7 linked regions of the Homo sapiens genome follow. The protein of the gene in region 1 interacts with the protein of each later gene in a biochemical or structural test. Each region holds a gene or a part of one and is shown in the gene's direction. Other genes may lie near its edges. The genes, in order: PTPRD, DDX17, NEK6, TSSK2, ABLIM1, SMTNL2 and MARK2.

Evidence for each region.
Region 2: the proteins of PTPRD (region 1) and DDX17 form a complex in vitro, tested with the Homo sapiens proteins (one large-scale study listed by BioGRID).
Region 3: the proteins of PTPRD (region 1) and NEK6 form a complex in vitro, tested with the Homo sapiens proteins (one study listed by BioGRID and IntAct).
Region 4: the proteins of PTPRD (region 1) and TSSK2 form a complex in vitro, tested with the Homo sapiens proteins (one study listed by BioGRID and IntAct).
Region 5: the proteins of PTPRD (region 1) and ABLIM1 form a complex in vitro, tested with the Homo sapiens proteins (one study listed by BioGRID and IntAct).
Region 6: the proteins of PTPRD (region 1) and SMTNL2 form a complex in vitro, tested with the Homo sapiens proteins (one study listed by BioGRID and IntAct).
Region 7: the proteins of PTPRD (region 1) and MARK2 form a complex in vitro, tested with the Homo sapiens proteins (one study listed by BioGRID and IntAct).

The regions. Positions count from the first base shown.
Region 1 is NC_000009.12:8,520,503-8,524,002, reverse strand, and holds part of PTPRD (receptor-type tyrosine-protein phosphatase delta isoform 1 precursor), read left to right. Parts: intron 1-478; coding exon 479-490; intron 491-2,456; coding exon 2,457-2,726; intron 2,727-3,500.
Region 2 is NC_000022.11:38,499,812-38,503,311, reverse strand, and holds part of DDX17 (probable ATP-dependent RNA helicase DDX17 isoform 1 precursor), read left to right. Parts: intron 1-2,031; coding exon 2,032-2,182; intron 2,183-3,500. UniProt on the Homo sapiens protein: As an RNA helicase, unwinds RNA and alters RNA structures through ATP binding and hydrolysis.
Region 3 is NC_000009.12:124,348,449-124,351,948, forward strand, and holds part of NEK6 (serine/threonine-protein kinase Nek6), read left to right. Parts: intron 1-2,388; coding exon 2,389-2,499; 3' UTR 2,500-3,500. UniProt on the Homo sapiens protein: Protein kinase which plays an important role in mitotic cell cycle progression. Required for chromosome segregation at metaphase-anaphase transition, robust mitotic spindle formation and cytokinesis.
Region 4 is NC_000022.11:19,129,889-19,133,122, forward strand, and holds TSSK2 (testis-specific serine/threonine-protein kinase 2), read left to right. Parts: upstream 1-1,419; 5' UTR 1,420-1,511; coding exon 1,512-2,588; 3' UTR 2,589-2,734; downstream 2,735-3,234.
Region 5 is NC_000010.11:114,441,776-114,445,275, reverse strand, and holds part of ABLIM1 (actin-binding LIM protein 1), read left to right. Parts: intron 1-1,141; coding exon 1,142-1,247; intron 1,248-3,489; coding exon 3,490-3,500. UniProt on the Homo sapiens protein: May act as scaffold protein. May play a role in the development of the retina. Has been suggested to play a role in axon guidance.
Region 6 is NC_000017.11:4,587,529-4,591,028, forward strand, and holds part of SMTNL2 (smoothelin-like protein 2), read left to right. Parts: intron 1-3,500.
Region 7 is NC_000011.10:63,894,610-63,898,109, forward strand, and holds part of MARK2 (serine/threonine-protein kinase MARK2), read left to right. Parts: intron 1-549; coding exon 550-729; intron 730-970; coding exon 971-1,024; intron 1,025-3,500. UniProt on the Homo sapiens protein: Serine/threonine-protein kinase. Involved in cell polarity and microtubule dynamics regulation. Phosphorylates CRTC2/TORC2, DCX, HDAC7, KIF13B, MAP2, MAP4 and RAB11FIP2. Phosphorylates the microtubule-associated protein MAPT/TAU.

The DNA.
Region 1 (3,500 bases):
AAAAGACTGAGAGGGCTTTAAGTTACAATAGGATGGGTTCCCTTAAGAAAATACCTAGCTTGATTTTGAAATTTTTGTTAGAGGTAATTTTGTTTCCCTGGGGATGTTTTTCTCTCCTTTCTTTTTTTATGGAGTCTGGGGTGGGGAAATATGAAGAAAGTCATTTCTTCTCTAAATTCTTCGAAAGTCCCTTGATCCTTTTTCCACAATAGTGACCTCCCTTGCTGCATGAGGCATGTGTACCTTCTTCCATGGAAAATTTCAAAATGATGCTAGCTATTGTTTCTAATACCATGTTAGTCTGTGAGATATTGCTAACTTTTCCAGCTGAGATAGGAAGGATGAACTAGAGCGAATAAAGATGTTCAAGTAGCAGTTGAAAGCCTTGATATGGCCTTTTTACTCTCTCTGTGTTTCCCTTGTTTTTCTCCTTTCCTCATTTCATTGTGTTCTGCATCAAACCCCCTACATCCCTCAGAGCTGCGAGAAGGTTGGTGTGTTTTTTACTTTTTACCCACCTTACAAAACTATTAATTAAACCAATAACAAAGAATACAAATGAAATGAATGTAGCTGCATTGTGTTCTTCTTTTGGTTAATGGTATGTTTTAGCAGAGAATGCCCTGGCCATGGCTTCTGGTGCTTGCTGGTGGTATCTAACTGTGGTGCATGGTGGGAGAGAATGTACCTGGGTGCATGGTAACTGGTAACACTTAACTCTGTAAGGTCCAGTGAACTTGGTCAGTGTTCCTGCTTTCCTTCCTGCTCCACTGTCCCCATCTCCCACCCTGCCTTTAATTTCTGTCTTATAAGGATGCCTGCTGCCCATAGAATGACTTTTTCTAGTTTCTCCCCTAATCCCAAGCATGAAGACTAAACTCTCCTCCATTTTTCTTGATATGTTCTTTGATACCTCAGAGTCTACACTGGCTCCTGCTTGCTTTGTGTAACCTCTGTGAATTGGCTGCAGGAGGCATGCTTAGCTTTCTCTTCTTCTCCTATGACTGTCATTCACCCATGAGGCCATTGCAGTGAGCCATCTCAAATAAGCGGAGGTTTATCTCGACCTTAAGAGCAGCCAAAAAGTTTTCAGACAGAATTACTTATCTTCTTCTTGGGGTTATGAGGTTACTTATCAGTTTATTTATAATTTTTAAAAAATCTTTATTAAATGTATTTAAGGTGTGCTCCCTAAAGATTACCCTCTAGATCTCAAATTCTTATGGTATGACATTTTGCCAGTAAAAGCCCCAGATGAAACCAATTTATCTTTCACTTTCTCCTTGTATCACATCCAAAACACATTTACTTAAACACACATAAACCTGCAGATTATCTGAAGCAGGAACACTGAACTGAAATTGCTTGGTAATTTTTCTGTGTTATGTTGCTTTAATATGATCTCTTCTCTTAATGTCATGTCCTGCTGTATGTTTTAGATCCAGTGTCCCTCAATTTGAATGTGGGCATAAAAAGCCTTTTAAAAGATTTTGTTGTCATTTATGTTGTTTTACCTTTGATATGAATTGAATGGAATCCTGTATGTGAAACACCCAGCTCCCTTTCTGAATTTGCAATCCTTACCTTTAACAACTTGAGCTTAATCTTCTGTCTTTCAACCCTGTCATCCCCTAAGTCCCTGTGTTTCAATCGTTATACTTTACCTCCCCCTTTCACGTTTATTTCTATTGCCCCCTTATTTCTTCTGCGGTCATTGCTGTCTTGGATTCCAGCCATTCTTTCAATATCCTTAGCACGGGCCTTGAGATTCCATCTTGTGCATGCCTTGCATGACCCAATCCAGTATCTCTACTGGTGTTAGCCTGTTTCTTCTTCTGTGACTGTAAATCAATATGTATATACATTTCTGTGTTTGTTCCAGTGTTAGTGTGAGGTCTTGAGGCTGCATCCACTATGAATCTGAAAACATAAAGTGCACTTTCAGTGTACTCTAGGTGATGTTTTCCAGGGCTGGGATGTGACAGTGTGGTCCCACACCTACATTCACATCAACTGGAAGTGCACAGCACTGAAGTTGGTTTTGATACTCAACTTAAACATGCTGGTGACCTTCCAGCCCCCTTTTCTGCATATACATGCCTGCATAGAATCATTGTTATATGCCTGCATGTATATGTTTTTGTGTTTATCTTATGCATGATGTTTGTGTATTGTTAGTTTGTAGATAGTTTTTTGTGGGGCCCTTGTAGGTCTGAATCAACTTTTGTATTAGTGTGTCTAAGATATCAATGACTAAACTAAATAAATAATTCTGTGTATACACACACCATACTTGTATGGTCTGTATTATCCACAGTTTTTCTTTATGTTTTGTTTTTGGACAATCCACAATGTTTCAATTGTTGAATCGTGTCTGTACGGTGCATGTCATGTGTTTAATAATCCACTTTTTCTTGCCTTGTATATGTTATCATTTCCCTTGTGTTTTGTTCCAGTTCGCCGTGTCCCACCAAGATTCTCTATCCCACCCACTAATCATGAAATCATGCCAGGCGGAAGCGTTAATATCACCTGTGTGGCCGTGGGGTCACCAATGCCTTATGTAAAGTGGATGTTGGGGGCAGAAGATCTGACACCTGAAGATGATATGCCAATAGGAAGAAATGTGCTAGAACTGAATGATGTAAGACAGTCAGCAAATTACACCTGTGTTGCTATGTCAACACTGGGTGTCATTGAAGCAATAGCACAGATCACTGTCAAAGGTATGCTCAATGGATTATGCTTTGAGGATCTGGGTACACTCAAGCCAAGTGACTAATGCCTCTAGAAAGCCCATCCTTGAAAATCTAAAATAATTCATTATTCAGCATTTTAAATGTGTGTATAACCTAATCATATCTGTGGTATTATATAACATGCATAAGCCTAGATAGGCGGATTTTTTCTTGGAAGTATCTGGCAGCCTATGTAGAGATAATCATCAGAATATTAAAAGACAGTCCATGGAGGCCCAGGCACTAACCAGACAGAACTAGGAATTTTACACATGGTCGACCATTATGGTGGGACTGATGTGTACAGTCTACATACTAGACCAGAACCTTGATAAGAACCCCAAGAAAAGTCAATATGAGCATTAATAAATGCTTAAAATTTCTAAATACAAAGGAAAAAGAAGAAAAAAAAAGTTGAAATCAACATAGTCTAGTAATAGATGATTTAACTTTTTGGTGAGCCCTACTATTAAAAATCAAAAGGCAAGTAAGAGTATATTCTGTTGTAGTTTTATCTTTCACCTTGCATAGATGAGTGCTCAAGGAATATTCTTTCCTTTAAAAAACAGACTAAATATAACCAAAGTACTATATTACATGAATATTTTTGAACTAAAGAGAAAGAGTACAAGCATGTAAGGGTACCGTTTTTTTTTCCCCTAGTGTTTATAGAATTCTAGAAAGTGTTTGCAAATTGAGTCAGACATAGGGCAACTTAAGTTTTCTGCAGATGGCTAGAACTATTGCAAAATGAACACAAAT
Region 2 (3,500 bases), on another chromosome or scaffold:
AGTCTTTTATAATTTGCAAGAGTGATAATCCAAAGACTTTCTACCTCTTGAAAAGTACCTTATTTAGCTGCTTCATTTGCAAGTGTGGCGGGAGCGGCAATTGAGGTGGCCTTTTGGTCTGTTCAGTATTGAGTCTTAAGCTGAGGGGCATATTAAATATGTCGCTGACACGGGTATCCCTATGCTATGTGCTCTTCCTGTTCTGATTCTTAATTTGTCTTCACTGTCTCAGTAGTGGTATAAATGGAATTAGCCAAGTTCTGCCTGTTGAGTGTAGGTATCCAGTGATCCCAATAAAATCTCCTGCCATCAATTTTTGTTACGTATGTATTTAGAGGAATGTCTGGCTGGTTAAGCCAGAGTTCTAATGGCTTTGAATTGCAGGAAATTGAGGCCCTGTAGAATAATACACCTACTTGCCTATCAATGATAAAGTGGAACTTTATATAAGATGAAGTTACAAGTGGGTTAGAGTGGGAAAAGGGAACTAAATTCAGTACAATATTTTACAAGGAGTAAAGAAACTGAGAAAATGCTATACAGTTTGTATGCCAAACAAAGACCTGTACTTTACAAGATCGAAATAGGGAAAATTAAGGCCATCTTAGTGTTAAGATTCTTCTAGGAAAAGTAGCTTCTGATTTCTTAAATATTAGCTTTGGCTAGTGGTCATATTTGTATTCCTCTTGAGCTTGTCTGTTGTGAAAGGTATATAAAAAGCAAGAAGTTGATCTTAAGTAATTAGTTGAGTGTTAAAGCCTTAAATAAGTCTTGTTAGTGTTTTTTTCTCTGTAAATTAATAATACCATTTGGGAACAAGAAGGAGATAGAAGGTAAAAGTAGAGATCAAAGAAGAAGGAAAGGTCATAAATCTATGTTCAGCTTTTTTTTTTTTTTTTTGACGGACCCTCCCTCTGTCTACCAGGCTGGAGTGCTATGGTGCCATTTCAGCTCACTGCAACCTCCGCCTTCCGAGTTCCAGCGGTTCTCCTGCCTCAGCCTCCCAAGTAGCTAGGGATTACAGGCGTGCACCACCACGCCTGGCTACTCTTTTGTGTTTTTAGTAAGAGACAGGGTTTCACTATATTGGCCAGGCTGGTCTCAAACTCCTGACCTCAAGTGATCCACTGGCCTCCGCCTCCCAAAGTGCTGGGATTACAGGACTGAGCCACTGCCCCCGGCAGGCTCAGCTCTTTTATTAGCGTAAGCTAAAAATGAAGACCAGTCTACCAGTCCTTTCCAAGACCCAGTTTTGCTTTGCAGATAAGCAGACAGGTGGAGTGCTTATCACAGTTTAATAGGGGAGCAGGCCCAAGAAGCTATTCTAAGATTGAGGGACTTGCTTGGAGTGTATCTTCCTTCTTGTCCACAATCTTCCCTTTAATTGAAACTTAACTTAATGTCATCCTTTGCCTGCATGTCTGTTACACAAAAATAGAGACTTGTGTCTGTTTTGTTTAGTAACTCCAGCACAGCACCACTTCAAACAGTAGCCGATACATACTTGGTACCTAGTAACTTGGTACCTAATAACTATTTGTTGAATGAAATGATGCTAACTTGTACTGAGTGCTGGCTATGCCAGATACTTTTATAGTACATTACACATTATTAGGTCATTTTCTCAGCAGCCTCTGAAATAAGTGGTATTATTTCTACTTTGCATAGGAAACTAAGGTGTGTGGAAGTTAAATAATTCTCTTCAAATTATACAGTAAGTGGCAGAATAAAAACTCAAACCATGTCTGGATCCAGAATCTGTGATTGTAATCCCTAGGATGTATTTCTCTCAATAAAGGGATTTTTAATTTTTTGCCTATTGTAGCTATATTCATAAACAGTATTTATTGTTGGGTAGTAAGGGAGGTTTTACACATTTCTCCATACCTTTAAATCACAGCAAATAAAATGGTCTTTTTGGAGGTAGGCTGGTAGTATCCCTAGAACTCCATCCTTTTTGAATATTCTTATGGCATGTACGATACGTTGCTTTAAAAATACTGATGAACTAACTAAAAATTCTGTTCCTAGATTTGGAGCAAGAGGTGGTGGTGGCCTTCCCCCGAAGAAATTTGGTAATCCTGGGGAGCGTTTGCGTAAAAAAAAGTGGGATTTGAGTGAGCTCCCCAAGTTTGAGAAAAATTTTTATGTGGAACATCCGGAAGTAGCAAGGCTGACACCAGTAAGTTTACATGTGTGTTTTAATGTACAGATTATTGAACCAAGTAGATATATTGGTTAGAGTTTATTCATACGCTACTGTTGCCGTTTTACATTTTATTCTAGTGTGGTGATATTTTTCTTAAAAAATTTTTTGGTTAATTTTTTTTTTTTTTTCCTTTTTGTAGAGACCGGGTTTCGCCATATTCCCCAGGCTGGTCTTGAACTCCCTAGCTCAAGCAAACTACCTGCCTCAGCTTTTCAAAGTGCTAGGATTACAGGCGTGAGCCACTGCACCCAGCTGATTTTTTTTTTTTTTTTTTTTTTTTTTTTTGAGACGGAGTTTTGCTCTTGTTGCCCAGGCTAGAGTGCAATGGTGTGATCTTGGCTCACTGCAACCTCCGCCTCCTGGGTTCAAGCGATTCTACTGCCTCAGCCTCCCAGGTAGCTGGGATCACAGGCACCCGCCACCATGCCCGGCTAATTTTTTGTATTTTTAGCAGAGATGGAGTTTCACTATGTTGGGCAGGCTGGTCTCAAACTCCGGACCTCGGACCTCAGGTGATCGACCTGCCTCAGCCTCTCAAAGTGCTGGGATTACAGGCGTGAGCCACCACGCCCAGCCTCTTTTTATTTTTGAGACGGAATCTTGCTCTGTCACCCAGGCTGGAGTGCAAGAGTCAGGGTTTCACCATGTTGATCAGACTGGTCTCCGTCTCCTGACCTTGTGATCTGCCCGCCTCAGCCTCCCAAAGTGCTGGGATTATGGGTGTGAGCCACCATGCCCAGCCTTTCTTACATTCTTATCTAAGACCCCTAATACTCATAAAAGGGGACCAGTTTAAATATGCATTTAATTTGTTCTCTTGTTGATAATGCTTACTAATCTGTTTATTATACATGATTGAAATATTGTATATTAGGTCATGTTTTTTCATCTGTTAGTGAAAAAGATAGATTGGCTTTTTTTTTTTTTGAGGTGAAGTCTCACTCTGTCCCCTAGGCTAGAGTGCTGTGGCATGATCTTGGCTCACTGCAACCTCTGCCTCCCAGGTTCAAGCAATTCTCCCACCTCAGCCTCCCGAGTAGCTGGGATTACAGACATGTGCCACCACGCCTGGTTCATTTATTATTTATTTTTTTTTTTTCAGTAGAGACGGAGTTTCACCATGTTGGCCAGGCTGGTCTCAAACTCCTGACCTCAAGTGATCCACCCACCTCAGCCTCCCAAAGTGCTGGGATTACAGGTGGGAGCCACCGTGCCCAGCCAACATTGTCTCTTCTTGTACCTCATTACCATTGTTTTTTGGACTCTACACATGAAATGGTTACTCTTTCAG
Region 3 (3,500 bases), about 120 Mb from region 1:
ATAATGGTGAGGAAGAAAGGACAGGTTTCCTGGCACAGCAGGGTCAAAAGTGTAGATACATGTTCACACACTCTCTGCACTGTTCCTAGGTGAGTCACCTAACCTCCCTGAGTCTCAGTTTCCTCACCTATACAATGGGGATAATATTAAATCTTCCACACAGGATCAGCATAAGGATTAAGGTAAGGCACCAGGCTAACACTGCCACCACCATCCAAAGTGGCCAATGGATGGGGCCTGGCTCAGTCAGTGTTCACTAAATATCATGTGACCCTTATTTCTGTTCAAGGTCAACGCTAGTGGGTGAGTCTGGGGCCTCCGTGGGCCCACCCCATAGGACCACAGGCCGTCACCTCACGATAATAACAGCTCATGTTCAGACTTCCTGAGTTGAATCTTCCCCTCACCCATTTACCAATAAGGAACAGACAGACACAGGCAAGTTAAAAAGACCGGTGAGGCAGGATCTGAACCCACATGCGCAGCCACGGAGCCATCGTGCTTCTTGATGGCATGTCTTTGGTGGCCCATCAATTAGCTGGGGTGAGGCTCTGGAAGGAGTGCCCTTGCCCCGGCCAAACTGCACAGGGCAGGTCCTGGGTGCTGCGCTTGTGTCCAGGCCGGAGGCTCCTCGCAGGGCACCTGTGCTGAGCCTGTGCTTGCTGGCGTTGCAGACTCCAGGGCTAGAGGAGCTCGAGTGTCGGGCGCTGCACAGTGCCCTTCCTCTCCTGGCTCCCAAGTTCTGACCTGCACTTTTGGAGGAAGTATTTCTCCTCCCCAGTGGGAGGAAAAACAAGTTGCATCTCTTTACAAAGTTAATAGTTGCCATTTGCTTTTTTCCTTTCTCATCTTCTGAATTCGGACTTGTGTATGATTCAGAAGCTTGAAGCTGTGCAACTGGAGCTGGTGACAACTCTGTGCTTTGGCTGTCAGTCTAGAAATGGGAGTCGCCCTCTCTACTTCAGTGATGAGGCTGAAATGAACATTGAAGCCCCTGTCCCAAGTCAGCCCTTTCCTGGCCACGAGCCCCCACTCCCCGGAGCACTGGCTCTCGCCGGGCCCCATGCTTAGGAGTGAGAGGTGGTGCTCAGGAGCCCCCAGCACACCCTATTTTAAAGTTATATCGCTGCTTAGAAATGAAAATAAGACACTTTTATTATTTTTCTCTTGAATTCTGAAAACTTCAAACATGCACTTATTGACAACTGTGCGTTTACTTCATAAATTAGTTCGGGTCACAGACACTTCACCTGAATCTGGTTTTCTTGGGTATTTTAACCTGTCAGAGGCCAACCACAGGTACCTTCCCCCGAATATTGTAAGGTTCAGAAAACAGCTGTCTTGTCCACAGGCGACTTCAGACTCCGGGAGTGGCCTAGCAGGCTGCAGGCCCTGTGTCACCTGGGCTTCTCGGTTGTAAGGCATGCACGCAGGTGCGAGGGGATACCCTAAGGCTCTGTGGCCCAGGGAGAAAATGCCCCATCAGCTGAGAGGAGCCCTAGTCTACAGGAAGCCCAGGCCCCATCCCTCAGCCTAACGGGCCTGCGCAGCAGTAGCCCCCGGGCCTCCAGAACGTCCCGTGGGCCCTTCCCAGTCCCTGAGTGAGTGTGGCCACTGAGACCACCAGAGCCCCCTCTGGTTCAGGACCACCCAGCTTCCTGCTGCTGCTGCTGCTTCGGCTGCTGTGGCCTGCGGGGCTGACCACCCCTCCAGCAGCAGGTATTTAAATGGAAACCAATGGCTGTGAGCCCGTGATGCAGGGTAAGATGTAGGCATTTTAAGGTCATTATTTTAATTACCATTAAAATAATTGGCACTCCGGCTATCAGAAGAATGGAGGCGATCAGAGGCGCAAGGCGCCCCTCCCCCACCTCGGGGCGGGAGCAGCCTTCAGTGTCTGTATAATTAAAAGCTCCGTCTTTCATGAGCACAATAAAGGGGCCGGGGGTGGGCAGACTGCAGCCCTGCTGCATGTTAATGCGTTTATTATGATCAATAAGCCCTTGCCTTGAGTTTTGTCCTCTGGTTTGGGCATCTGCGTGACTGACAGCAGACACACACACACACACACACACACACACACAATTTGCCCAATGGTGTGGACAGCTACAAGTTCAAAATAATTTGGAGGTTAACCATTCTTAGGGTCTCAAAGCACAGCCTTTGGGACTAGACAGGCCTGGGAGGGGTACTGGCTAGCCCTTGGGAGCCATGCGGCTGCGCACCCCTTACTTGCCCCAGCTAAACACCGTTCTTCAGCTCTAACGGGGACAACGGGACCATCTAGTTGCTCTGAGGATGAAGTGCCTTCATGCAGACAGACTGTGGAGTGCGGAGCCTCAGTAAGACTGCTTTCTTGAGAATAACACACCATTCTCTCCCCTGCAGTTACGAGAACTGGTCAGCATGTGCATCTGCCCTGACCCCCACCAGAGACCTGACATCGGATACGTGCACCAGGTGGCCAAGCAGATGCACATCTGGATGTCCAGCACCTGAGCGTGGATGCACCGTGCCTTATCAAAGCCAGCACCACTTTGCCTTACTTGAGTCGTCTTCTCTTCGAGTGGCCACCTGGTAGCCTAGAACAGCTAAGACCACAGGGTTCAGCAGGTTCCCCAAAAGGCTGCCCAGCCTTACAGCAGATGCTGAAGGCAGAGCAGCTGAGGGAGGGGCGCTGGCCACATGTCACTGATGGTCAGATTCCAAAGTCCTTTCTTTATACTGTTGTGGACAATCTCAGCTGGGTCAATAAGGGCAGGTGGTTCAGCGAGCCACGGCAGCCCCCTGTATCTGGATTGTAATGTGAATCTTTAGGGTAATTCCTCCAGTGACCTGTCAAGGCTTATGCTAACAGGAGACTTGCAGGAGACCGTGTGATTTGTGTAGTGAGCCTTTGAAAATGGTTAGTACCGGGTTCAGTTTAGTTCTTAGTATCTTTTCAATCAAGCTGTGTGCTTAATTTACTCTGTTGTAAAGGGATAAAGTGGAAATCATTTTTTTCCGTGGAGTGGTGATTCTGCTAACATTTTTATCTACGTTTTATAACTTGGTGAGTGACGATGAGAGCCCTGCACCTGGCCAGAGTGTCACAGGCAAAAGGCATCGGGAAGCAGGAGCATCTTCTTGGCAGCCAGGCTGGGCCATCTTCTCCTGGACACCTGCTGTGTACCAGGAACTTCGTCACCTCCTTGAATGCTGGCGGTTCATTTCATGATCAGTGTTAAGCATTTTCCTCCATGGGAAGGAAGCATGGGATATAGAAAAGCGAAGGGCTGTCCTTTACAAATTCTGGTTCTGCAACTTCCTAGCGTGACTTTGGGCTTGGGCAAGTTTCTTAGCCGTTCTGAGCCTTCATTTCCTCATCTGTACAATGAGATTAATAGTACCTATCATCTACCTTCAGGATTGCTGACAGACAGAATTTGAAATAAAATATGCAAGTTAGCTAATACAAAAAGTAGATGATCCAAAAATGGTAGCCACTCACCCTTCACAAA
Region 4 (3,234 bases), on another chromosome or scaffold:
CACTTTCAGAAAAAGCCCTCTCTTCTCCCAGGCTCTCTGCTGCCTGGGTGCCTTCCTGCCGCCTCTACCCAAGGGAGGCCCTGCCCCACCCCTCAGACATGCAGCCACCTGCCCTGGACCCTGGGCACCCAGCTGGCATGCACTGCAGCCCCGACCCACCCATACACAGGCCCTTGCTCGCTGGAGCAGCAGCGACTCACCTGCCCGGCTCTCTACCCTGAGGGGCCTGCCGCCTCTGCTCCCAAACACAGAGCTGCTTTCGTCTACCAGGCTTGGCACCACTGCCAGCCTGACTGGTCCAGGGCAGTCCCTCCCAGGTACCACTGTTCCCAGAACCAAGCCAGGTCCAGCTGCATTTTCTTGAGGCCCAATAACGAGAAGCAGACAAACTAGGAAAGAAGGGAGTTTATCACTGTAACTGGATACAGGGAGAAGGCTGGAGATAATTCCAGCAGACCAACTCAAAGTGCTACAATTTTCTTACTGTTTATATAGGTTGGGGTTATGTGCCTACATGCAGTACAGCAATCACCTAAGTCTACTGGTAACTAATTTTGTTCCAAGGAGAAGGTCAGAGGCAAAAAAAATGCTTGCTAAGTCCGATTAAAAGGGGCCCAGTGCCTTCAAGGCCTGTCTACTGTGGTACCGGAGTGATTATTTCGATTGTATCTCCTTTACAGCTTGGTCCAGAGAGCTGCCTTAGACTATCCAATTGATCTATTCAAACAGCTGCCTGTTCCCTTAACTTGTCTTCAGATTTTGTCGACCCGAGATGGGTCCTGGCACTAGGAATGTAAAACCGTTCCTATTATTTTGGCTTGCTCCAGCAAAAGAGAAGCCCATGCAAGGCTCCTGCTGACCATGTTTCATTTCTAGCTTTGATGTCTGGGCACTGATTTCCCTAGATTTAACTATGTGCTCAATGGTAAGGCAGTGCTGTGGAAATCTGTCTGTGTAACTGGGGTGCTATGCAGGCCTGTCTGGGTGACTGTCAGGGACAACTGTCCTACCACACCAAGGACACAGCCCTGGGGGTGCTTTTCTTCATAGCCAAAGAAGCTGCAGGAAACCCACCCTAGTGGGACAAAGACCAATGCAGGGTCAGTCCCCACAGCCAGGTGATGCAAACAGGCTGGACGTGGGCCGCCTCCCCTCCAGCTTGACTTGTGACAGGGAAACCAATGCAGCAGCAGCAGGGCCACCAGAGTCCTGTCCTGGGGACAGGCTTCCTTCCAGCGGGCGGGGAGTGGGTGCTCCTGCCAGACCAGCCTGGCTTCCACGGTTCCAGAGACCCTGTTCTCCCTCAGCCCAGTCCCCGCCCCCACTCCTTGGCTTTATGAGTTCATTGGCTGAAGTCACCCGGAGACAATGCTGAGTGTTCCACCCCTGAGTCGAAGCCCAGCCCAGGGCAGCCCAGCCAGACGCCTCCGGTAGTGTAAATGAGGACAATGCCTGCTGGCCCACATGACGGGGGGATGTAGACGGCAGCGGCGCCAGTCGCTCCTGGCACCATGGACGATGCCACAGTCCTAAGGAAGAAGGGTTACATCGTAGGCATCAATCTTGGCAAGGGTTCCTACGCAAAAGTCAAATCTGCCTACTCTGAGCGCCTCAAGTTCAATGTGGCTGTCAAGATCATCGACCGCAAGAAAACACCTACTGACTTTGTGGAGAGATTCCTTCCTCGGGAGATGGACATCCTGGCAACTGTCAACCACGGCTCCATCATCAAGACTTACGAGATCTTTGAGACCTCTGACGGACGGATCTACATCATCATGGAGCTTGGCGTCCAGGGCGACCTCCTCGAGTTCATCAAGTGCCAGGGAGCCCTGCATGAGGACGTGGCACGCAAGATGTTCCGACAGCTCTCCTCCGCCGTCAAGTACTGCCACGACCTGGACATCGTCCACCGGGACCTCAAGTGCGAGAACCTTCTCCTCGACAAGGACTTCAACATCAAGCTGTCTGACTTTGGCTTCTCCAAGCGCTGCCTGCGGGACAGCAATGGGCGCATCATCCTCAGCAAGACCTTCTGCGGGTCGGCAGCATATGCAGCCCCCGAGGTGCTGCAGAGCATCCCCTACCAGCCCAAGGTGTATGACATCTGGAGCCTGGGCGTGATCCTGTACATCATGGTCTGCGGCTCCATGCCCTATGACGACTCCGACATCAGGAAGATGCTGCGTATCCAGAAGGAGCACCGTGTGGACTTCCCGCGCTCCAAGAACCTGACCTGCGAGTGCAAGGACCTCATCTACCGCATGCTGCAGCCCGACGTCAGCCAGCGGCTCCACATCGATGAGATCCTCAGCCACTCGTGGCTGCAGCCCCCCAAGCCCAAAGCCACGTCTTCTGCCTCCTTCAAGAGGGAGGGGGAGGGCAAGTACCGCGCTGAGTGCAAACTGGACACCAAGACAGGCTTGAGGCCCGACCACCGGCCCGACCACAAGCTTGGAGCCAAAACCCAGCACCGGCTGCTGGTGGTGCCCGAGAACGAGAACAGGATGGAGGACAGGCTGGCCGAGACCTCCAGGGCCAAAGACCATCACATCTCCGGAGCTGAGGTGGGGAAAGCAAGCACCTAGCATGACAATGGCCCCGTTGTGTGTGGTGGGGGTCGGGGTTGGGGGGCATGGTGCAGTCGGCCTTCACGTAAACTAAGTAGGCAGGTAGGATCTGAAGAAGGCACAGGTGCAAGTAAAATTCGTCAATTAAACCACTATTTTGATTACGTTCCATTAGCTTTCTTCCACTTAGCAGCAAAGACGTTCCTTACTGACCACCAAATAAACCACAGGGTGTGTGCAAGCATCAAGAGTGCCCAGTGAGGAGTGTTTTTCTCTGGGACTCAGCCAACCGCCCCACCTGACACACAGTGGTCTCCGGCCTAGGAGCACAGGACAGATGCTCAGGTACAGGCAGAATCACAGTGTGGCCTGGCCTTGTGGGGGACAAGAGGGCCTCTGCCAGGGTCCACCCACCAGGCCCACACTGTCTCCCTCTGACCTGGCCTTGTCCCCAATGCCCTGGGGCTGGCCAGCTCCAGTGGTCCACGACTCCCCCTGGCTTCCTGCAGTTCAGCCCCCTCTGACCTACCCCCACTCCCTCACAATCCCTCGCTCAGCATCCTCCTCTTCCTCTATTTCCTGGAGTCATGTGAGATTTCTGTCCTCAGCCCTCAAGTTCCCTGCCCTGTCCTCCAGGGGCAGCCCCAGCTGAGACCTCCCCGTG
Region 5 (3,500 bases), on another chromosome or scaffold:
CTAGTTACATAAGATCTATATTTTTTGAATGACTACTATGTATAAACCATCTAGATAGGCAAGAGGTGGTCCCAGTCTTCAAGGGGCTTGAAATCTGGCAGGCAAGGCAAGACAGGTGTCTGTTAATAGTAACTAGAATATGGCAGAATACCTGCTGGGCTCTAGAGGAGATGGCATTGGTGCTGGAGGTCAGAGGGGTGTGGAAGGTTTGGGTTGTTGTGGGAAGGAAAGAGAGACCACATGGGGGCATGTGTGCAGTGCATGTGTTGAAAGGCTGCTGGAGGGCCAGGCAGAGCAAGGTGGTATCCACCCAGGTAGTGCCACACCTTCCTTCCCTCATGCAGTTCTGCTGAAGGAATGACTGTGGGATTGAACATTTCTCCAAGTCTTTTCCCAGGATGTGGGCCAGGAGAAAAGGAATGAAAGGAATGGCCACCATGAAGGGGTCCTCTTCATACCCTCCTTCCTGTAGCAAGGGCCTGCAGCAGCCCAGAAGGACAGTCTGTTATCAGTCAAGAGGCTGCTGAATCCTTTCAAATGATGTTTTCTAAGCATATAGGAAATGCACGTGATATTAGTCAAAGGATACAAAGTTGCATTTATAGTATGATCTCAGTTTTATATGTGTGTATACAAAAATACTAGATAGATATAAATCAAAAGATAGTGTTATTTCTGAGTGACATATTATGGGTTACTCTTCTTTTCTTCTAGATTTTCCAAAATCTGTAAAATTAGCATGTATTACCTTTATTTCTTGTTTTTAAACAAATCAAGGCAATTTCTTTTTAAAGGATACCAGCCCCAGTCTTCCCTTCCCACATCAAAAATCCACACACACTCACACATGCCTTCTGAGGTCTCCTGGCTCTTTAGGGAAAGCAGAGGAAGGAAAACGTTCTTCTAACACAGAGCCTGACTTAGGGAAATGGAGCTTTGAAACTGAAAGGGCTAAGAGGGTTTAGGGTCCCAAACTTGACCTACCTCTTCAGGAACTACCAGGCTCTGGGGCCACATGCATTCAGGCCCTCCAGCAAGAGAAACTTCTTGTGGGATCTGCTACAAAGAAACTGCAGCTCCATGAAAGTAATTGCAAGCTTTGCTTTCTTTTTTTTTTTTTTTTCCTTTTTTCTGTGAATAGCTTAACTCAGGCCTGGGACAGTTGATCTTGAAAGAAGAGATGGAGAAAGAGAGCCGGGAAAGGTCATCTCTGTTAGCCAGTCGCTACGATTCTCCCATCAACTCAGGTAAGCAGCAAACCCCCAACCTTCCCTGATTCGAGAGCCAGCCACCTGCTTGTAAGGCACCTGCCTTGACTGTTCACTTGTGGTGGAACCTACAGAGTATTCCACGGGAAAGGAAGTGTGGGAAACCCACTCCATGTCAAATGAGCTCATAAGCATGTCATGGGTCTTCCATAAATGTGTGTTTCCTTTCTTCTGGAAATGGGTGAACCCTTGGAGGTTCTCAAAATCCATGAAGGCCAATCCCCATATACTAGGTTTGTCTTCTAGAACACTCATCTCCAAGGGAAGCAGCAAAAGGAAATCCTCTAAAAAACATGATGCTTTTCTTCTTCTTCTTTTTTTTTTTTTTTTTTTTTAGATAACATGAATAAGACATTTTCTAAGCATTATGATTTTACATTAATATCTTCAATAGAGGCCGGGTGCGGTGGCTCATGCCTGTAATCCCAGCACTTTGGGAGGCCAAGGCAGGCGGATCACCTGAGGTCAGGAGTTTGAGACCAGCCTGGTCAACGTGGCGAAACCCCATCTATACTAAAAATACAGACATTAGCCAGGCGTGGTGGTGGGCTCCTGTAATCCCAGCTACTCGGGAGGCTGAGGCAGGAGAATCACTTGAACCTGGGAGGTGGAGGTTGCAGTGAGCTGAGATCACACCATTGCACTCCAGCCTGGGCGACAAGAGTGAAACTCCATCTCAAAAAAAAAAAGAAAAAAAATCTTCAATACAAGAACTGAGGATGAACAGTGTTTTTGATACTTTTGAAGAAGATGACTTATACACTGGGCTGAAATAGCCTATCAGTGTATTTTCCCCTGTATCTATTTGTCATAAGCCAATTCTCTCTTAAACCACAAGATTTCTTCTCTCATATTCTGAGCTAGAGCATAATTTTCTCCTCTAAGAGTTCCTTTAAAAATGCATTTAGTGGGGAGACCAAGGCGGGCAGATCACAAGGTCAGGAGATCGAGACCATCCTGGCTAACACAGTGAAACCCCGTCTCTACTAAAAAATACAAAAATCAGCCAGGTGTGGTGGCGGGCTCCTGCAGTCCCGGCTACTCGGGAGGCTGAGGCAGGAGAATGGCGTGAACCCAGAAAGCTGAGCTTACATTGAGCCAAGATTGCGCCACTGCACTCCAGCCTGGGTGAGAGTGAGACTCTGTCTCAAAAAAAAAAAATGCATTTAATGTTCACTCCATGCAAGCATTTTTGCTAAACATTTTATTTAATGTTCACAACATGCCAGTGAAGTAGATGTGGTTGTTATTAGCAACTGCAGCATTTTCATCTCTATTTTAGAAATCAGGAGGCTGGTATAGAAATTGAGTTAACATACCCAGCGTGATACGCCAATAACTAGCAAGACTAGGATTTAGAAGTCCACATATTATAACCCCGGAGCCCACACCCTTACCTGGAATTCCCGCTACCCTTCATAGATGCCTCACTGGCATTGATCTTGGATTCGGTGGTTTACAAATCTTTAGAGTTCCTTGGAATTCTGAGATTCTGCTCTATAAGAATGTATAACATTGTACCTGCATAGATGAAGAAATGAGGACTTCAGAAAGATTAAACACCATGTCCGGAGATACAGAGGTATTAAGTTGCAGAACCAGAATTCAAGCCCAGGGCTGCTCCCTCTCAAGCCCAGCAGCTTATCAGGCTTCCATATCATTGACAGATACCCTGTATCAGGCCTCCCAGGAGGCCAGCTGTAGATGGCTGGTAGATCTTGATAACATACAGGGTTGGCTTCCAGTTCAGTTACTGCTGCCTTATCAACTGGGGCATGGGCTAATGTATTCAGATATCCCTGATTTACATCCTTGCTCAGCTGTTTAGAAGCTTAGTAACTGTTGGCAGGATATTTTTCTTAGCCCCTATTTCTCCTTCTGTAATATGGAACTAATAATCATAGTGTTATTAGGGTTATATTGAAGATTCAAAGAAATAAAGCATGCTGAACACTTAGCTCCATGCCAGAGCTATAGGAAGCACAGCCAGCTTCAGCCCCCACTCAACCGCGTGGACTTGACTTTCCCTTCCCTCCTCAGTCATATCACTGTCCACCCACTCCTTGCAAATATGATGGCATATTTTTGAACATTTGAGCCCAATATGATTTGAATTTTTTTGGTATTTCTATCCTGTGAGGTAGAAGATACTGCCAATTTCATTAAAGGATTGGACCTTCTGATTTCCTAACAATTGGTTTTTTACTTTTTTCTTACTCAGCTTCACATATT
Region 6 (3,500 bases), on another chromosome or scaffold:
TGGACATAGAGTCACAGCCCCACACCAGGCTGCTGGGTGTCTGACCTCTCAGACTTTGTGTCTGTGTAGTGGGGGTCTGGGTGGGACAATCTCATCCCATCCACATGAGCCAGGGATGGCTGTACTACCTGGCATTGTAGAGGTTGGTGTCACACTACCCCTCTGTAACAAGCAATGACATTTAGAGACCCAGTTCCTTTCAAACTGGGGACTGAAGGATTGGAGGTAGATTGTCTCCAATATATAAATGTCCCCTGAACTCAATACAGGAAGGGTTGATCAAGTAATCCTGTCTGGCTGGGAGCAGGGAGCTGAGAGCCAGCTTGGGGCCGGGGGTGGATGGTGGCAGCTTGAGGCCAGGCCCAGGCCCCAGCAGGTTGGGCCAGAGCTGTGGCCTGGAAATGTCATCCTCAGCTGAGCTGGAGCCACTGGGTCCCTATGCCCGAGGCAGCGGAGGCCCCAGGAACAGCTGCCAGGAGCCCCATGTCAGAGGCCCGACCATGAAAGAAGCCAGACTCGCCTTATCTGCCTTCCTTTCCCAGACACACTGTGCGATAAGAGAGTTAAATGCTTTAGGGAGAAGTTTGAATTAAGTCCTTTCAAACGGTGTTGTGAGTGGAGGAGGGCCGGGTCAGCAGTGTGAACTGTCTTAGGATGGGGCTCTGGCCCTGCGTGGGTCTCGTCCCCATGGATGGGCCCGTGCAGATCAGGCAGCACCCAGAAGGCCTGAAATATTCTTCCTTCCCCTACAAAAATGTCTAAAAGCTTTTCCAATAAGAAGGTCCCTGAAATCAGACTTACCTCATCACCCTTCCGCCTTTCCCGTGAGTGCCTCAGGCCTGGGCTCCCTCATGGGGCACCTCCCCTTTCTCAAAACAAAGCCGAGCTGGGGAATCTTGGGGGGTACCAGGCCAGCTCAACAGGACCTGTCCCCAGCCCCAGGGCTCTCCAGCGATTTCTGCCCCGGTCCCAGCATACCGAGGCCCCTCCCTGGTTTCCTTCCGCATGACGGCGACAGGCTGCCCCCATCAAAGGAGAGCAGTAACCCACTGGGGACTCTGCGGGGACAGCTCGTTCCAGCCCAGCCCTTTGGTTGAAGACCTCTGAGTTCTGTGAAGGTCCCACTGGGTGGTGACCCCAGTCCCCCGCCTTTTCCTCACACTCATTGGCTAAGACAGATCCCATGGGGCCGGGGCTCATACTGACCCAGGTCCTGGAAGACAACTTTGCCTTGAGTTGTCCTCTCTGCCCCCTAGAAGGCCAGAGCACTTTGTGGACAGAGCCCTGGTTTGGGGTGGGAGACCCGAGTCCCGTACTTTGGCTCTGCCACTACCTTTAGTCATGGTGTGGGGTTTAGGGGTTCCCCCTGCCCCACCCCACGTCTTGCTTTCCCCATCTGTGTGATGATGGGTTGGAGGATGGTCTCAGAATAGCCCCTTGCGCCTTGACCTAAGGCACGGGCAGACCCCTTTCCCCAGGTGACGAATGCTTCTAGTCGTGGGGCAGGGGAGCTTGGGAGTCTGGGCTCAGCCCTACACCCCAGCCTGCATTAGCCCAGCCCCTTCCCCTCCTCCCTTTGCCGGAGAACCCTTAGCAGTGATCTAACCAGGATAGAACTTACTCCCAGTCTGGTGTAGCGCCTGGTCCCCTGGGGCATCATGGGGGTTGTTGAGGGGCTGCAACGTGCAGGGACAGGCATCTGCGGAGGGCCTCCCACCCACCTATAGAGAAACATATTTCCTGGGAAAATGGTTTCACCCTCAGCCTTTCCCCCCAGAGCCCCGCCTGGACCTGTGGAACCTGTCAGACGAGAGCAGGGTGGGTGAGGGGGCACGGAGACCCCAGAGCCTGGTGACTGTGGGGGCCGGGGTTCCAGCTGGACTGGCTGGTTCTCCTCCCCCTGCCGACATGGTCTACACGGCCGCAGCGTGGCTCTAGGGGCACCCGTTCTGCTCTGCGTGCTGGGAGACGCCCTGTGCTTTTCTTGCGTTTCTGAGAGTGGGCCTGGCCTCTCCTCCTCCCACTCTTGAATCAAGAGCTCAGGGGTCGCCTCCTCTCCAAGGCTGGCTCTTCCCAGGCTCTGGGTCCTGTCTGCTGTGAGCTCCCCAGTGGTCCCGCTCTGCAGATGCTCCCCTCACCTTTCTCACCCTATGAATGTGGTCTTGCCTCTTCCTTCTGGAAAAACCCCTCAGACCCTTTCCCCTGGCTTCGCTCAGGGCTAAAGTTACTGCGCTGTCTTCATTTCTCTGGGACCCCTCTGCTAGGCCATCTCCTGTCCCCCAACCCCCTGTCCCCCGCCCCACGCTTCTGATCACCCATGACCTCTTCTTTTGCTGAACCCAATGGATGCCTGGTTGGATTTCCTCTTCACCTTTTCCTCAACCCCAGGCTGCCTTTGGACGCACCTGGCTTTTTTTTTTTTTTTTTTTTTTTTTTTTTTTTTTTTTTTTTTTTTTGAGACAGAGTCTCGCTCTGTTGCTCAGGCTGGAGTGCAGTGGTGCAATCTTGGCTCACTGCAACCTCCATCTCCTGGGTTTAAGCGATTCTCATGCCTCAGCCTCCTGAGTAGCTGGGATTACAGGCACCCACCACCATGCCTGGCTAATTGTTGTATTTTTAGTAGAGATGGGGTTTCACCACGTTGGCCAGGCTGGTCTTGAACTCGTGACCTCAAGTGATCCACCCGCCTCGGCCTCCCAAAGTGCTAGGATGACAGGCGTGAGCCACCGCGCCTGGCCCCGTGCCTGGCTTCTTGACTCCCTTCCTTCCTGGCCTTGGCTTTCTCACCATTCTTCAGGGGCTCCTCCTACGTCTCTGGCTGCTCCTCATTCTCCGCAGACTGCTCTGTTGCTTCCTGAAATGTGGGGGCCTCATCCCAGGGCCCCTAAGCTGCTCTTCCTCTGCTGGGCTTCCAGGAGCCCAGTGCATGCCCCTGACTCCTGTTTTTCCATGTTCGTCCTTCTTTTCTCTTAAACTCCAGACTCAAAAATCCAGCTACCTCCTCAGCTCCCTGATGCTCCAGGTGCCCCAGGCCCTCAACATGTCCCAACTGAAACCCTCATTTAGCCCCTAAACCTGCCCTGACCCACCAAGTCTGGGCTTGGGAGAGGCTTGGCACCCTTCCTCTTCCATGTCCACCCAGTCTCCCAGCCAGATCCCTTTTCCCCAAAGCTCCGAGTCCTTCTTGCCCGTGGCCCTCCCAGTGCCCCATCTCCCCTCCCCAGGTTCCTGCCCAGGACTAGTGAAGTGTCTTGCCATCTGGTCTCCACTCTCTGGCATCTTCTGAAGGGTGTGCCTGAAACACAGAGCCGAGGACCTTGGGCTCCTTCTTGTCTAAGGCGTCAAGTACCCAGGGCCAGCAGCTTGGGCGGCAGGGCAGGCAGCTTGGGCGGCAGGGCACTTCTCCATCTGCCTGCGTCCTGGACGGGCATGATCAGGATACCTGTGCCTTGATGTCTCTCTGCAAAAGCAGACACTAATCACTCTGCTGGGAGTGCCCT
Region 7 (3,500 bases), on another chromosome or scaffold:
TGCTTGAACCCGGGAGGTGGAGGTTGCGGTGAGCTGAGATCGCACCATTGCACTCCAGCCTGGGCAACAAGAGTAAAGCTCTGTCTCAAAAAAATAAATAAATAAAAAATAAAGGTTCATGTAAGTTTTGGGTGGCGATGAGGGCGTTGAAGCAGTTATGACCATGTAGCTACCATGACTTTGAGATGCAGTCTTCTCGCAGTGTGCACAGGCAGCATGGAGGGAGGCAGGGTACCGGCTCTCCCTCCTGAACCAGACGAGCTGTTGTGTTGCCAATGGAGGTTCAGGGAGCCAGTGATGGGACAGCTCTGCTCCTGAGCTTTGCCACCCACAGGACCTGGGCACTGGACCTTATGATGTGCTTCTCTGGAGTGAAGACTGGCTGTCACCTCAGCCCCCTCTCCTTTCTTCTGCTGCCATATCATTCTTCACATGCCTACCAGCCCCCTGGAATCTGCCCCTGCACCCTCATCCCTTATATATTTTGCAGAGAGCGTTTAGAGGACTGGAAGTGTGGCATGTAATGGTATCTCTGTTTCCACCCCGCAGCCCACCTTGGGACACCTTGACTCCAAGCCCAGCAGTAAGTCCAACATGATTCGGGGCCGCAACTCAGCCACCTCTGCTGATGAGCAGCCCCACATTGGAAACTACCGGCTCCTCAAGACCATTGGCAAGGGTAATTTTGCCAAGGTGAAGTTGGCCCGACACATCCTGACTGGGAAAGAGGTGAGCACTGGGACTGGGGACATGGCAGCACCTCCCAGCCCTGTTGACACTCCAGCAGGTGGTGATGGGACTACTACTGCAGCCAACCTCTTGTTTATCCGGCAGAAATGAGATCTGAGATATAGGGGTGCAAAAAGCTGTGGGATGAAAAGGAGTAAGAAATATAAAGGAGGAAGTAGATTGGAATCCTGGGTTTCGCTGGTCAGAGAAGTGATTTGGGGCCTTTTTGTCTCATCCTCAGGTAGCTGTGAAGATCATTGACAAGACTCAACTGAACTCCTCCAGCCTCCAGAAAGTAAGCACATGGCACCTCCTGTCCCTTTTTTTTTTTTTTTTTTTTTTTTTTTTGAGTCAGAGCCTCACTCTTGTCGCCCAGGCTGGAGTGCAATGGTGTGATCTCGGCTCACTGCAACCTCCGCCTTTTGGTTTCAAGCGATTCTCCCGCCTCAGCCTCCCGAGTAGCTGGGATTATAGGCACCCGCCACCACACCTGGCTAAGTTTTGTATTTTTAGTAGAGATGGGGTTTCACCATGGTAGCCAGGCTGGTCTCGAACTCCTGACCTCAAGTGATCCGCTCGCCTCGGCCTCCCAAAGTGCTAGGATTATAGGCGTGAACCACTGCCCCCAGCCCACCTGTCCCTTTCTAAATCTCTCTTCTGGGGTCAATGATCTACTGACCCCATTTAGACCTTCTCTTGAATTCCTAGTTTAAATTTTCTGGCCATTTCGCTCACCGTCCCCCAACCATTCCCTCCCATGGCTCTGCTACCTTCGGGGCTTTGGTTGGATCATCTGTGGTGACTCCTCCTGAGTGGGCTTCCTGGCCATAGGCACTGGCTCTTGTGAAGTCTTTCTGTTCATTCCCAGCCACTTGGCCTACCTGTCTGACCTACTTCCTGCATCTTGTTATCTTCTGGCTTGTGGCCAGCCCTATGCAAAAACACATGTTTGTAGCCACTACTAGAAACACGTGCAGCTACTTCAAGATCTGGAATGATACAGGGGAGTGGCTTTAGAAATACAAGAATAAGAGGAAGCAGGGAACCTGCCGGTGGGTTCTGTGCCAGCTACCTTTTAGAGAATGAGCTCCAGCTCAAATTTTCTGAACAAAACCTAGTTCTGTTCATCTTGTGGCAAATCAGATATTTTCTCCATAAGCATATTGTGGCAGTTGAGTTAGGAGAAGGCATGATTCGTGCTAACAGAGTCAGATAGTGATACTGGGAACCTTAGGAGTAAGGGCTGAGGATTGTTGTTGAGGGCGATGCTCATGGAATTAGAGTGGATGAGTTGTTCTCCGGACATGCAAATAGCCAGAACCAAGGTGTTTCCTATTTATTGTTACCCCTGGGATCCCTTCAAGGGTTCTTCAGTTCAGTAGAAACATTGTTGTCATCATCAGGGTGTCTCTGCTTGAAGCTTTCCAGGAGGAAGGGAAAAAGGGCTGCTTATGACATCCTGGCTCCAGCCCCACAGAAGAAGTCAGCGTGGGGTAGGCCATTTGGCCTTGGGAGCAGTCTAGCCTGCCATCGTAATAATCGCCAGTCCACCAAGCCATCTTATTCCTGACCTTGTTTTTCTCCCTAATTCTTCTTGGTTTTCTCCCTAATTCTTCCTGACTCTCTGGAAGGCACCAACACCAGACAAATAGAGCCATTTTCAAAACCTTTTGAGACTCTTTGTTACTAAAGCCAGTCTGATTCTGGCCAAAAATGTGATCTCAGCAATGATCCCTGAAAAATGAACATTGAAGAAGCTAGCCCCCTCAGGGGTCTAGACAAGCCCAGAAAACCCCAAGTTCTCCCAGAAGAATGTCACTTCCATGCCAGGTGAGCAGCCTCAGGGGAAGAAGCCCTGGCAGCTGCCTCTGGCCCTATTTCAGAGCTGCTCCCCATTACTGCCCCAGAGGGTGGTATCCAGGCTTTTTGCCTCTCCATCCAAAATATCTGTTGGACCAGGGAAAAAAGTAAGAAAAACCTAGGCCCTAATAAAGGGTAAGGTCAGCATTGGGTTCCTGAGGATTGGAAAGCCTTTTTCTTCTTTTCCTTTCTAGCTTAGGAAAGCTCTGGGGCATCATTAAAGGGGAAACAAATGTATTCACTTTATTCCATAAACCATATCTTGAATTAGGGCTTCCCCTACCCCCAACAAAAACAACAACAAAAACTAGTTCTGTTCTTTGTGCAAGTGATGAGGCCTGAAATTACAAAAAGCCCCACCTCCAGTTCTCTGGCCCCCGCAGAGGGGAAGGAGTTCATTTCTGTCATCTTTCTTTATGGAAATACATGGTTTGGAGCCCCTGGTTTTGTTTCACAAAGAGAGCGTGAGTGTGTGGAGGTGGATTTGATTAAAATTGGCATCAGCTATATATAGGAGTGGCTTCTTCTGTCACCACCCTAGAGGCCCAGGAAGGAAAGGCCTATCCCCTAGAACAGAGCCCTCTGACTACTGTAAATCAGAAAATGATGGGGTCCCCCTCTGGTGCTCTACCACCCCTTTACACAGACCAAGCTGGGGTGTGTACTGTCACTGAACCAAGGCAGCAGCTCGGATTCTGAATATTCACGCACACGGGCTCACACTCCCTCCAGTAGAGGCACCCAGCCAAAACCTGCCTGCTGTTTTGGGGCTGGATTTGGTAGACGCAGCAGAGGGCATGGCTGGCTCATCCTGATGCCATCCCGGGTAGCACGTCCCCACAGCCAGCCCTCCTCCAGCTTCCCCAACTTCCCAGCCACAGGGAAGGCCGTGCATGAGCTAGACAACCACC